Regions from separate parts of the Homo sapiens genome. Here region 1 is linked to region 2. The links come from fine-mapping of genetic effects on gene expression. A gene starts in region 2. The other region holds a variant in brackets. All regions are shown on one strand. Distances are from middle to middle.

Region 1 (5,382 bases), 49 kb before region 2:
ACAAATAGATTTCTATGAGGAATAATCATTTAGAAAAATAAGATCGTTTTCATTACAGTCACAAAGTCTATAAAGTTTCTAGAAAGAATTAATTTAACCAAGACCTGTTTGGAGAAAAGTATAAAATGCTAAAAAATGACAGGTGATCTGAATAAATAGAAACAATCCATGACTTTGGAAGAGGCAATAACATTGTAAATATGTCAATTTCTCCCAAATTAAAAAGTCTTTAAATGTAATCCCAAACACAACTTCTTTACTTTTGTAAAGAACTTGAAAAATTTACTCTAAAATTATATGAAAAAGGAAGATACATGAGTAGCTAAGTCAACCATGAAAAAGTGAAAATAAAAAGAGCTCACTGACTTTATCATATATTATGTAATACTGAGGCAGAAAGTTACCAAGGCCACAAGAGAAAAGCAGATTTGCTGGGACAGGGTAGTCCTAGATCAGAGCTAGGCAGGCCAGGAGTGGGGGCTACACAGAGGGGATGAGGGAGGACCCCTGGGACCAACAGACAGGAGGTCTAGGTCTGTGCTGTCACCACTCCTAAGGGTCTGGTCAGGTCCTGTGCAGTCTCTAGGCCTCATTTCCTCAGATGTGATATCTTGGCTGGTCTTGAAGATGCACTGGGCTCTGATTCCTAAGGTCGGATGGTCCCATCCGACCTGACCTGGTTAGGGAGAATTCCTGCTCCCCCAGCTCTATCCCTCCCCTTCCCTGAACTCCAATCCCTTGTTCTTCCCCTGGCCAGCTTTTTCCTCCGTTCAAGACTTTGAGGTTCCTTCTGACTAGGTCCCCTCTCAGTCCCAGAGACCTCTGTGGCTCCTGCCCCACACCCCTCTGTCATCGTTCAGGGTGGGCCCTTACGCAAACAGCTCCAGCTACAAGGGGCCTGCCTGGCTTAGGGACACCGCAGGAGGTGGTGACATCCTGGCCCAAGTCCATCCTCCTTTCTCCTTCTTCCCTGCAGGAAATCAAGAGCCCCTGCCTGCCTTGGCTCAGGTGGCCCCAGATTCCTGGTCTTGGTGCTATGTGGACTCCTCCTGGCCAAGGGCCTGATGTTGTGAGTCCTGTTAGTGCTCCTGATCTGCAGGTGCCACAGGTGAGGGGGCCTGGATTTCACCTGGGGGCAATGGAGCTGGGGCCAGATTCTGTTCCTAGAAAGATGGCTAGGAAGAAGCAGCCAGGTCACAGAGGCAGGAAAAATGACAGCTGGGAACAATTTAAAAGTGTGTTTCCTTGCAATCTCTGCCTTCCTGCAGACACAGACCTTAGAAAGAGACAGAGGCTTTCTGGGAGTCCCATCCCAGGGCTCTGCCTCTGTCTCTGTCCTGAGAGGAAAAAGACCAGGAGGACAAAGCTGAGAGTGCCTGGGTAGAAGGTTTAGGAGACAGGAAGGGGCAGGGAAGGAAGCAGGTGACAGGGAGAAGGCGGGGGAGGGGCGGGAAGAGGAGTAACAGGTAACAGGGACAGGGTGAGACAAAGGATCAGAAAAGCATCACTTCCATTCATGACTTTCCCCCTCTTGCCCCATCTCAGGACAGCAGTGACGAGGTTTCTGATTGTCCCAGCACAGCCTTGTCCCAGGACCCTTGGGTGCATGAGCCACAACATGGATCCTGGATGAATCCCAGTTCTTCCCCTGCCCAGCTATTGGGAGCTGGCCTAAGTATTGCTCCCCACCTCCTTGTGAGGAAAGGCTAGCGCTAAGCCTATTGGAGAGAACTTTCAGCCCCTGAACTCCCCGGTGGTGACCCCTCACCCCTGCACTGAGCCCCCTTAGATCTACTGCCCCTGCCCTGACTTTCGCCATTGGGAAGACCTGGGGTGGGGGTTTCTGCATCCGGGTCAATGCCCAGCTCAGCATCTTCAGCTGTGCCCAGGCTCCTCTCCAGCACTCTGTCGTTCTCTGAGCCCCACCTCAGCAGGTCTCCAGGATCCCTCACATTTCCCCTGTTTGTTGCCTGTGGTCTGCCCTAGAGTCCTATGAATTTCCTCTTGTGCTTAATTAAATTCAACCTCTGAACTGAAATGTGTCAGGGGCAGCTGAGCAAGACAGCAGTTGTATCCCCTCACCTTCCTCCCGTCCCACCCCAGATATCCTAAATGAGAGAGAAATGACTTAAAAATAAATGATAAAATTGAAACTAAGAAAGGCTGTAATCAGCAGACTGGAAGCTGAGGAAGATCTAGAAGTAAAAGAAAAAATTAGATGCGTTAAAATGACATGAGCAGGC[G/A]ACTCAGTGGCCCAAAACAGGACCCAGAACATTCATCCGTAAATGGAATCTGATAATCTGGGGCCCAAATTCTGTTTACTTAACATGTGAGAAGATTCACAGCCTAAAAGAGAAAATCAAGTTGAACTAACAATAAATGATGGTGGGTGAAAGATAAATGTTTTAGGGAACAGAAGAGGAGCACATATTTATGAAGCAAGAATAGGTACAGTCATTTTCCAACTAACATCTAGTGAGACTGGGATTCACCACTCAGAATGGGGGTCCACCATGAGCAACAGATTTGAGGTACCAGTGCATAGCAGCTGAATGCCAGCCCTGTAAAAGACCACCATAAAGAGAGCTCCATGTTCTTTTGCTCTTTTGGGGATGGGACATCAAACAAAAGTCTCTTCGTGTATATCTCAGCTCCTGCCACATGATCATCACCTATCTGTGAGAGGCATCGCTTTTGCTTTGTTTATTTATTTTTTTAATCCTCATTCCCTATGTCCACTTGCCTTCCTCTCCGAGGCAACTACTCTAATGCATTTGGTATGTAACTTTAAATTTGAATGTATTCTTGTAAAACATCCAGTATTTTTTTTTCTGTGACTATGTTTTCACTTACATAAAAGAAATTGTGATAGACCTTTTTCATATGCTTGTCTTACTCCTTGCTGGGCACATATACACAGCCCACTTCTTTTCAGTGCTTATTCCATTGCGTACATATCCCACAGTGCATCATTCCGAACCCAGGGTGCATGTGCTTTTTTGCCTTCACTTTTCTATATCATAAATGATGCTGTGATGAATACCCTCCTTCACGTTCTCTTGTGGAATCATGTGAGACTTCCTTTAGGACTTATACACAGGTGGCATCAGCTGGGTTGTGGGATCTCAGACATCTAATTAATACTGCCAGCTTGTGTTGCCTGAACCAAGAATCTAGACACTAGCGATTATGTGTTTTCTCTGAGTCTATGTGAAGTACACAGCACAACCTATGGAATGGTATTGCCAATTAAAAAAAAAATGGAAGGCAAGAATAAACGTAGCTGAGTGATGCTACATGGGGCTAGATATATGATTATCTCTACTTTTGTGTATGCTTGGAAATTTTCATAATTAAAATGGTACCTAAAATTAAACACTTGTGTCTTGAAGCCACTGCTATTTGGTTTTCAGTCGTATGTGGCTGAACCCAGTTCTTTCTTATTGAACTTTTACAACTGCAGTAGGTTGGGAAAAGTTGACTTGTCGTATGGAAATATTGAGCTTCACTTAAAGAACATTGATAGTGGGATAAAAATGGACTAAATAAAAATAAGTCTTCCTTAATCAGATGCTAAGAGCTTAGCATTTAGCTATAACTTTTAAATATTTTATCTTAACATCCTTGGCCTCAAAATTGTCATAATTCCCTTAACCACAATTTTCAAGCAGGTGGTAAATTCTGTGTCATAAGTTAACATCTAAAAAATGTAGCTTTCTTTAAAATTTTGAACATTTCTTATTGTTTTCTTACCTTCATAGTGTTGCTATGGAAATGTCTGATAATAATCTGATAGTTATTCATCTCTACTGACCAATTTTATCTCTGGAACATTTTATAATTTTCTTTTTGAAATTTGTATTATAATGGGTGTAATGTGGGGTAATTATCCATTTTTTCCTTTTTTTTTTTTTTTTTTCTTTTTGGGCGAAAGAGGGGGAAAAGAGTCAGGGGGTGGTTGGGAAGCCCGGCGACAAAAGGGGGAAAGAGGGAGGGAGCAGGAAGCCAAAAGCCTATATCACCCGGTATTCCCAGGCGGAATCCCATCCAAGTACTAACCAGGCCGACCCTGCCTGGGGCGTGCCTCGGGCACTTTCAGGGTGGTATGACCCTAGAGGCCAGCAGTGGCGCCTGGCTGCCCCAACAGCCCGCGGTGCTGCAGCGGCAGACCTCCACGAAGAGGTCCCGGGCTCCCGCGGGGGCGCAGGCGAGCGGAAAAGTGGGAGAAGAGTCAAGAGGTGGTTGGGAAGCCCGGCGGCGACAAAATGAGTAAAGAGGGAGGGAGCAGGAAGCCAAAGCTTGATTATACATTCTATTTGGAACTCTCTGAACACATTCAGTCTGATGTCTTACATATTTGTTTAATTCGGAAAAATCCTTGGTATTATTTTTTCAAGAAGTTCTTCTACTCCATTTACTCCTTTTTCTCCTTTGAGGACTTCTTTGAGGAGATATTGACATTTGTTTCTATCCTCCATACCTCTTAATGTTTCCCTTACACTTTCTATCACTTTATTCCTTCCTAATGCCTTTAGGAAGTGCTCCTTGACTCTTTCCCTTACCTACTCATTCTTCTGCTAGTCATTGCATTCAGAGTTTTCTTTCAGCAATGATCATTTTCTTAATCAATATTTCTAATTTTTTCTTCTTCATTATTGCTTGCTTCTGTTTTATGCTTCTAATATTGTTCCTTATTGCTCTGAGAATATCTGCTATGCTTATTGAAATCATTGTTTTCCCACTGGTTCTGCTTTCTCTGTAATAGATTATTCAATTTATTTCTTTATAAGAAATTTGTTCTATTTGTTATCTTTTTATAGCATTTGGTAATTTTTCTTGTATTCTCATCTTTTATTCCCTTCCCACCCCTTTTTTTTGAGGATCAGTTAATTACTGCAGATTTCACTGCCTAAGGAAGCCCCAGAGGTAAATAGAGTTGATGAGTTTGCCATAAACCATCCAAATATAGAGATACTATATCACAAAGATAGCCATTCACATCAGTGAGTTTATTTAACAATGAAAACAGCATATGTGGCCGGGTGCGGTGGCTCACGCTTGTAATCCCAGCACTTTGGGAGGCTGAGGCAGGCAGATCACAAGGTCAGGAGATCGAGACCATCCTGGCTAACATGGTGAAACCCCGTCTCTACTAAAAATGCAAAAAAAATTAGCCAGGCGTGGTGGTGGGTGCCTCTAGTCCCAGCTACTTGGGAGGCTGAGGCAGGAGAATGGAGTGAACCCGGGAGGTGGAGGTTGCAGTGAGCCAAGATCGCGCCACTGCACTCCAGCCTGGGTGACAGAGCGAGACTCCGTCTCAAAAAAAAAAAAAACAAACAAACAAAAAAAGAAAAAAGCATATGTTTAACTATTTGGAAAAAA
Region 2 (5,382 bases):
TGAGAGACTGTAGCTTACCCACTCAGGCCTGGGGTACCTTCCCCCATGGAGCACCAAATAACAGGCTAGACAGTGCTGCTGGGTCTACTGTGTGGGTCACGGTAACACTAGTACTGCTGTTATTAATACCACACACTTAGGTCCTTGCAGGCCTGGTGAAAAATGACAAGTGCTTACCCTTTCATGGAGCCCCCTGGCATGCCCACCCCAGGATAGGCCAACAGATCTGCCTGACCTTAGGAAGACTCAACTCAGGGACTCACAAGGAGTTTAAAGGTGAAATCAGTCTTGAAAGCCAGTTCTTCTGGGAGCAGACTCCAGTTTCTAGGGAAACCTCGGAAACAGACCTCTTGGGCAACTCCCACACACTCCAGTCAGGAATGTGCCTCCAAGAGACTGTTGACCAGAGGCTGAGTGTTGTCTGAAACCAAGCCTGGTTCCCTCATTTGTTCACTCACTCATCAGACTGGCTGGGAGACTTCTCTATCATAGGCACTGTGCTGGGCTCTTTGGAAGACACACAGACTCCATCCTCAAGTTGCCACCACTGAAGCCCTAACCTCTGAAGTTAATGTTACAGATAAATCTCTTTTATTTGCCAGCTCCCCAGGGAAGGTGGGAGTTACAGGTGACTGAGTTTGCAAACTTGCCTGTCTCTCACAGAAGGAAGGAGACAATAAGAAATGAAGGCTGCTGAGCTGTCTGTGCACAATTGCAAGAAGGGAATTCCTTTGAATATGTTAATTAAAAGGGTAGCAAATACTACCTATTAAGTATTATGTGCTAAGGGTTTTTAAAGACTATCTTATTTAATCTTTATAAAGTAAAAAGTTGACACCATTATTCTCCCCATTTTATAGATAAGGAAACTGAGGCACAGACAGATTAAGTGATTTGCCCAAAGTCTCACCATAGTTAAGTACTAGAGCCAGGATTCAAACCCAAGGACTCTGGTTCCACCTAAAGCACTGAGCTACATGGTCCAACACAGTCTGATAGGGATTAGAGAAGTCCTGGCCCAAGTGTGAATAAGTATCCAGTTGCAAGGAGCATTGAGGTTAACCCCTAACCTATCCCCACAGGGCACAATGAAATATATACCACTGGTTTTCTCTCACACAGGTACATAACCTTCAGCCCTCTGCCATCTCCCAGTTCTCCTTCAGAAAAACATGAATCAAACACAAGGAAATGCACTTGTCCATGAGGAGCTAACTCCCTTCTGCCCATCTAGATTATCACCCCAGCTCCAAGAAGACCCAGAGCAATGTCTGAGCACAGGCTCTTCAAGGCAGTTGTCCATGACTTTGCTCAAAGTAGAGAGCCCAGGAGGATACCTCTCCCTGATTTTTCATGCCTTCCCAAGGCAAGCCTCGCTTTTAACTCATATTGACACTTTCCTCCTGTTATTCATAAGGATTAGGAGGAGGAGTGAATAAAGCCCGCATGCTTCTGGTTTGGGTGCAGATGTGAGCTGTGCGGATCGTAAGAGGAGACACAAGAAAGAGCTGGGGCATGCGCCGGCTCTGCTGAGCCTCAGCAACTGTGCCCTCCAACCCCAGCGTGCCATGGAGAGCTGGGATGATCACCTCCACCAAAATGAGCACCAGCCTCTTCTGGTCACGTCTGTGTCCTCAGCAGTAGTATATTTGCTGTCCCATAGTAGACCCCTGGGAAATATTTGTTAAATCAATTCTGTCTTTTGGGTTTAACAGATTGTCAACATCAAACACATCATGATGGAATATAAGAAAAAAATTTCAACATCAAATAAACTTATTGTAGATCATGCCATGATGAGATCTACTCTATCATTATTCCCATACTAGGCTTTGCATGTCTCTAACAACATCGACATGCACAGACATCTTTTTTCCCTGACTCTCTCCTTCTTTTACTTTTGTGTGCAGACACTGCATGTTCTCCCAATTCTGGGTAGAGCAGCACGGTCTGCCATAACTACTGGTTGGCTCTATCTTGGATGGCCCTGTGCTCTGAAGCTTCAACAGAAAAGGGCTCCCCGAGATCCTGGACCAAACGCCTCCCCTGCTCAGTCCTCTTCCTTGTCTTACCTGAGACAAAGAGCATCCACAGCAGCCCCCAGAGCCTGGTCTTCCTCATCCTTCCTGTGCACCAGCTCCAACTGCTGCTGAGGGCTCCCGGGACAGCTACAAGGCACCACAATGACCTAGAGGCTTCGGAAAGTTGCACAACAGGATATGAGGCCATTCCTGGGAGTCACTGAGTTTGGGTTCTGTTTCATCACCAGTTGCTCTGACTCCTGACATCAACACAATAATACAGAGACCAAGACTCACTTCTCAGTTAAGTTTCTTTGAACTCCAGTTTTCCTTTCTGTGGTAATAATGACAATTACCTTTCAACCTTACAAAATCTAAGGGAGAATGATACTTGAATGTAAATCAAAGTAAGGCATTCATATTAGGAAGGGGAACAGAGGGCCCTTTGCTCTCCAGAGGCCCCCTCTCCATTCACATCCAGTTTAGTGTAGTGAAGAGAGTCAGGCCCACATAGGGAGAGGCTGCGACAATCGTATCTCATCTTCAGGGTTTTTGTGAGAACATGTTGCTTCATCCTGCCCTGCTCAGCCCCGTGGGTTCTCTTGGCTTCTGGTGACCTGGGGTGCACCTCCTCTTCATCACCAGGAGGGCCACACCCTGCATTTGTCCTTCAGCATTGCCACAGACATGGCCTGGGAGCTCACGGGGGTGTAGGGACCCCAGAAACAATTTGAGAGGACACTGCCACCACCCAACAAGAACAGACTTAGATTTAAAAAGGAAACTTGGTTCAAGACGCTGAAGCAAGAAGAAAAAATCCAGCAGGTTTTGTACTAGAAGCAAGAAAAGACAGATTTGACAGTGTGAAAATCAAATCAATAATGGAGAGGATTCACTTCAGAAATATTCCCAAATGTGAAATGAATAAAGACATTTAGAAGAGCTCAGAAATTTAAGGGAGGACAAATCACAGAATTCCAATCTACAAATCAGAGATGTCCTTAAAGCATAAAATGGAATGGTGGATCACAAGCAAGATTAAAAATTTTATCTTAAAAAATATGCTTTCCAGGTCTGAGAAGAAATCTAAAATTGGAGGTTGAGAGTTCAACATGGGCAAGGAAAAAATTCACAAAGTGAGACCTAGAATAGGAAGTTTCCAGGTGAAAATTTTTAAATTTAAATAAAAAGATTCCTACTGCTAAATAAACAAAAAAATAACTTGGTTTCTTCAAAGGAATTGAAATAATCAGGACTCAGATTTCTTCTCTGAGTAACAAATACCATGAGAGAGTGGGATGAGGTATAAAGAACATTATGACCCTAATATTTTACACCCAAATTGATTGCTACTCAAGTATAGGAACAGCTAAAAGGTACTATCATGTCTGTAAATTAAAACAAACAACAACCAAAAAAATTTTCAAGGCTAACTTTAATTTTTTTTATTAAAGCTGTTCAATGCAGCAATTTATAAAATATAGAAAATAATACATAAACTTAAATCATGTTATTACACTTTATAGAGATCATTTGTAGTGGAGATTTTACTATGTTTATTTTTTGTTCTACAAATAATGTCGGAAAACAGGCTTCAAACATGCTTGAACTGAAATCTGCTGGCCCCTCCTTTTGCTGTACTCAAGCAGTCCCTAAAGAGGAAAAATAGACAGAAAGCTCTTGACATTTTCTGACTCAGAGAGGAGCCTACGTGACTTCTGTGGCGATGAGTCAAATTAATAAAGTTTATTTCAGTGAATAAATCCCCTCCTTACAACAAAATTAATATTCCACACTTAAATAATAGCTATTTCACATACTTTCTACATTTTTGTGTCTTCATATACTTTGTGTGGAGGATTAAGCTCCTGGAAGATTAAGAGGGAGCTTTGAACTAAACAGTCCAAGAAGAATTTTTAATTAGACTTGAATATCACTGGAGGCTGATTGCTCCTTCACATTTTCCTAACTACGGACAGCACCTGCATTTAAATTAGAATGAAGTAGAATGAGGTCTTTCTCCACTTGTCTGATCTATTTGTGTACTTGAGGTCAACAGTGCAAATAGTCACGTGTCACTTAATGACAGATACATTCTGAGAAATGTGTTGCTAGGTGATTTTGTGTTGCAGGAACATCATGGAGTGCACTTACACGAACTTAACATGGCACAGCCTACTGTACACCTAGGCTGTATGGTATAGCCTATTAATATTAGGAAGGGGAACAGAGGGCCCTTTGCTCTCCGGAGGCCCCCTCTCCATTCACATCCAGTTTAGACAAATACCTTTCAACCTCACAAAATCTAAGGGAGAATGATACTTGAACATAAATCAAAGTAAAGCATATTCCTAGGCTGCAAGCCTGCACAGTATGTTACAGTCCTCAATACTGTAGGCATTTGTAACACAATAGTAAGTATTTGTGTATCTAAACATAGAAGAGGCATAGTAACAATACGGTATTATGACATTATAATCTTATGGGACCTCCACCATATATGCAGTCTGTCATGGACCAAAACTTCCTTGTGCAGCACATGGCAGCATTCTCTAATCCTTACCACTTTATTTTTCTGAGGAGTTTAATGACCCGATCAGTAACTTCTTCAGGCTGAATAGGCAGGACGATATTCCTGCCTAACTATTAGGGTCTCTTTAAATTCTCAAGCTACTGCTCCCAACAAGATATTATTTCTTAAGGCTTCTCATAGAAGAGCACTGTCATTTGTGACCTATGGTTCCTGTTAATTTTACTAAGGCTGGGTCACATGTCCCATTTCCATGCTTGCTCATAGGGTGGCCTCTAGCACTAGGAAGATTTAGTCTTTGGGTACCATGAACCTTTCCATATTTGCCAAACTTCATCTTCAGAGCTATTATGAAATCAATACAGTTTCAACATTGATACAATTAATGAAATAATACCAATATTATTCTGTTTTGTTTTGTCTTCAATAAGTCACTGCCCCAAGTCAGTAGGTCTCGATCTTCACTATGGGGTAAATTAGCAGTTTCTTCCTTAATAAAGATTGGTTAATCTAACCTAGCTAGAATATATGTGTAACATTTTTTAACAATGAGATTGCATATAAAATATCTTCTTTTCTGGCTCAGAGGAGGGGCCCACATGGAACTGGAACACAGATCTCTGAGGATAGTGTGACCCTGGTGCTGATATCTCTGAGGAGGCCCAATGAGACTACTTCTGAGAGTGGGGAAAACTGCAAACTGGAACCAGTCACTGTTGCCCGTGAAAAGCATCACTGAGGCTACTCACAATGAAAGAGAATGAAATAGGAATCAGTGAGCATGTCCTGTCTTCCTCCTCCAGCCTCCCAATCTCCCTCTAATGCCCCTAT

Evidence for each region. PIP is the estimated chance that this variant, and not a neighbour inherited with it, causes the effect.
Region 1: its variant is the best candidate, but not a certain one, in a credible set for the expression of TREM1 in whole blood (TOPMed, PIP 0.67).

Annotation. Positions count from the first base shown.
Region 1 is chr6:41,235,510-41,240,891 of GRCh38, forward strand. It overlaps TREML4 (triggering receptor expressed on myeloid cells like 4), which reads left to right. Exons shown (of 6, transcript NM_198153.3): 5 at 977-1,108; 6 at 1,546-3,373. The coding sequence ends at 1,073. It also overlaps the pseudogene RNA5SP207. Among named protein-coding and RNA genes, the nearest start is that of TREML4, 9.9 kb to the left of the region's middle. RefSeq lists enhancers at 3,617-4,153, 4,154-4,688. The variant G/A (reference allele first, on the strand shown) is at 2,244.
Region 2 is chr6:41,284,535-41,289,916 of GRCh38, forward strand. TREM1 (triggering receptor expressed on myeloid cells 1) reads right to left here and starts at 2,148. Exons shown (of 4, transcript NM_018643.5): 1 at 2,073-2,148. The coding sequence starts at 2,121. RefSeq lists a silencer at 4,133-4,222.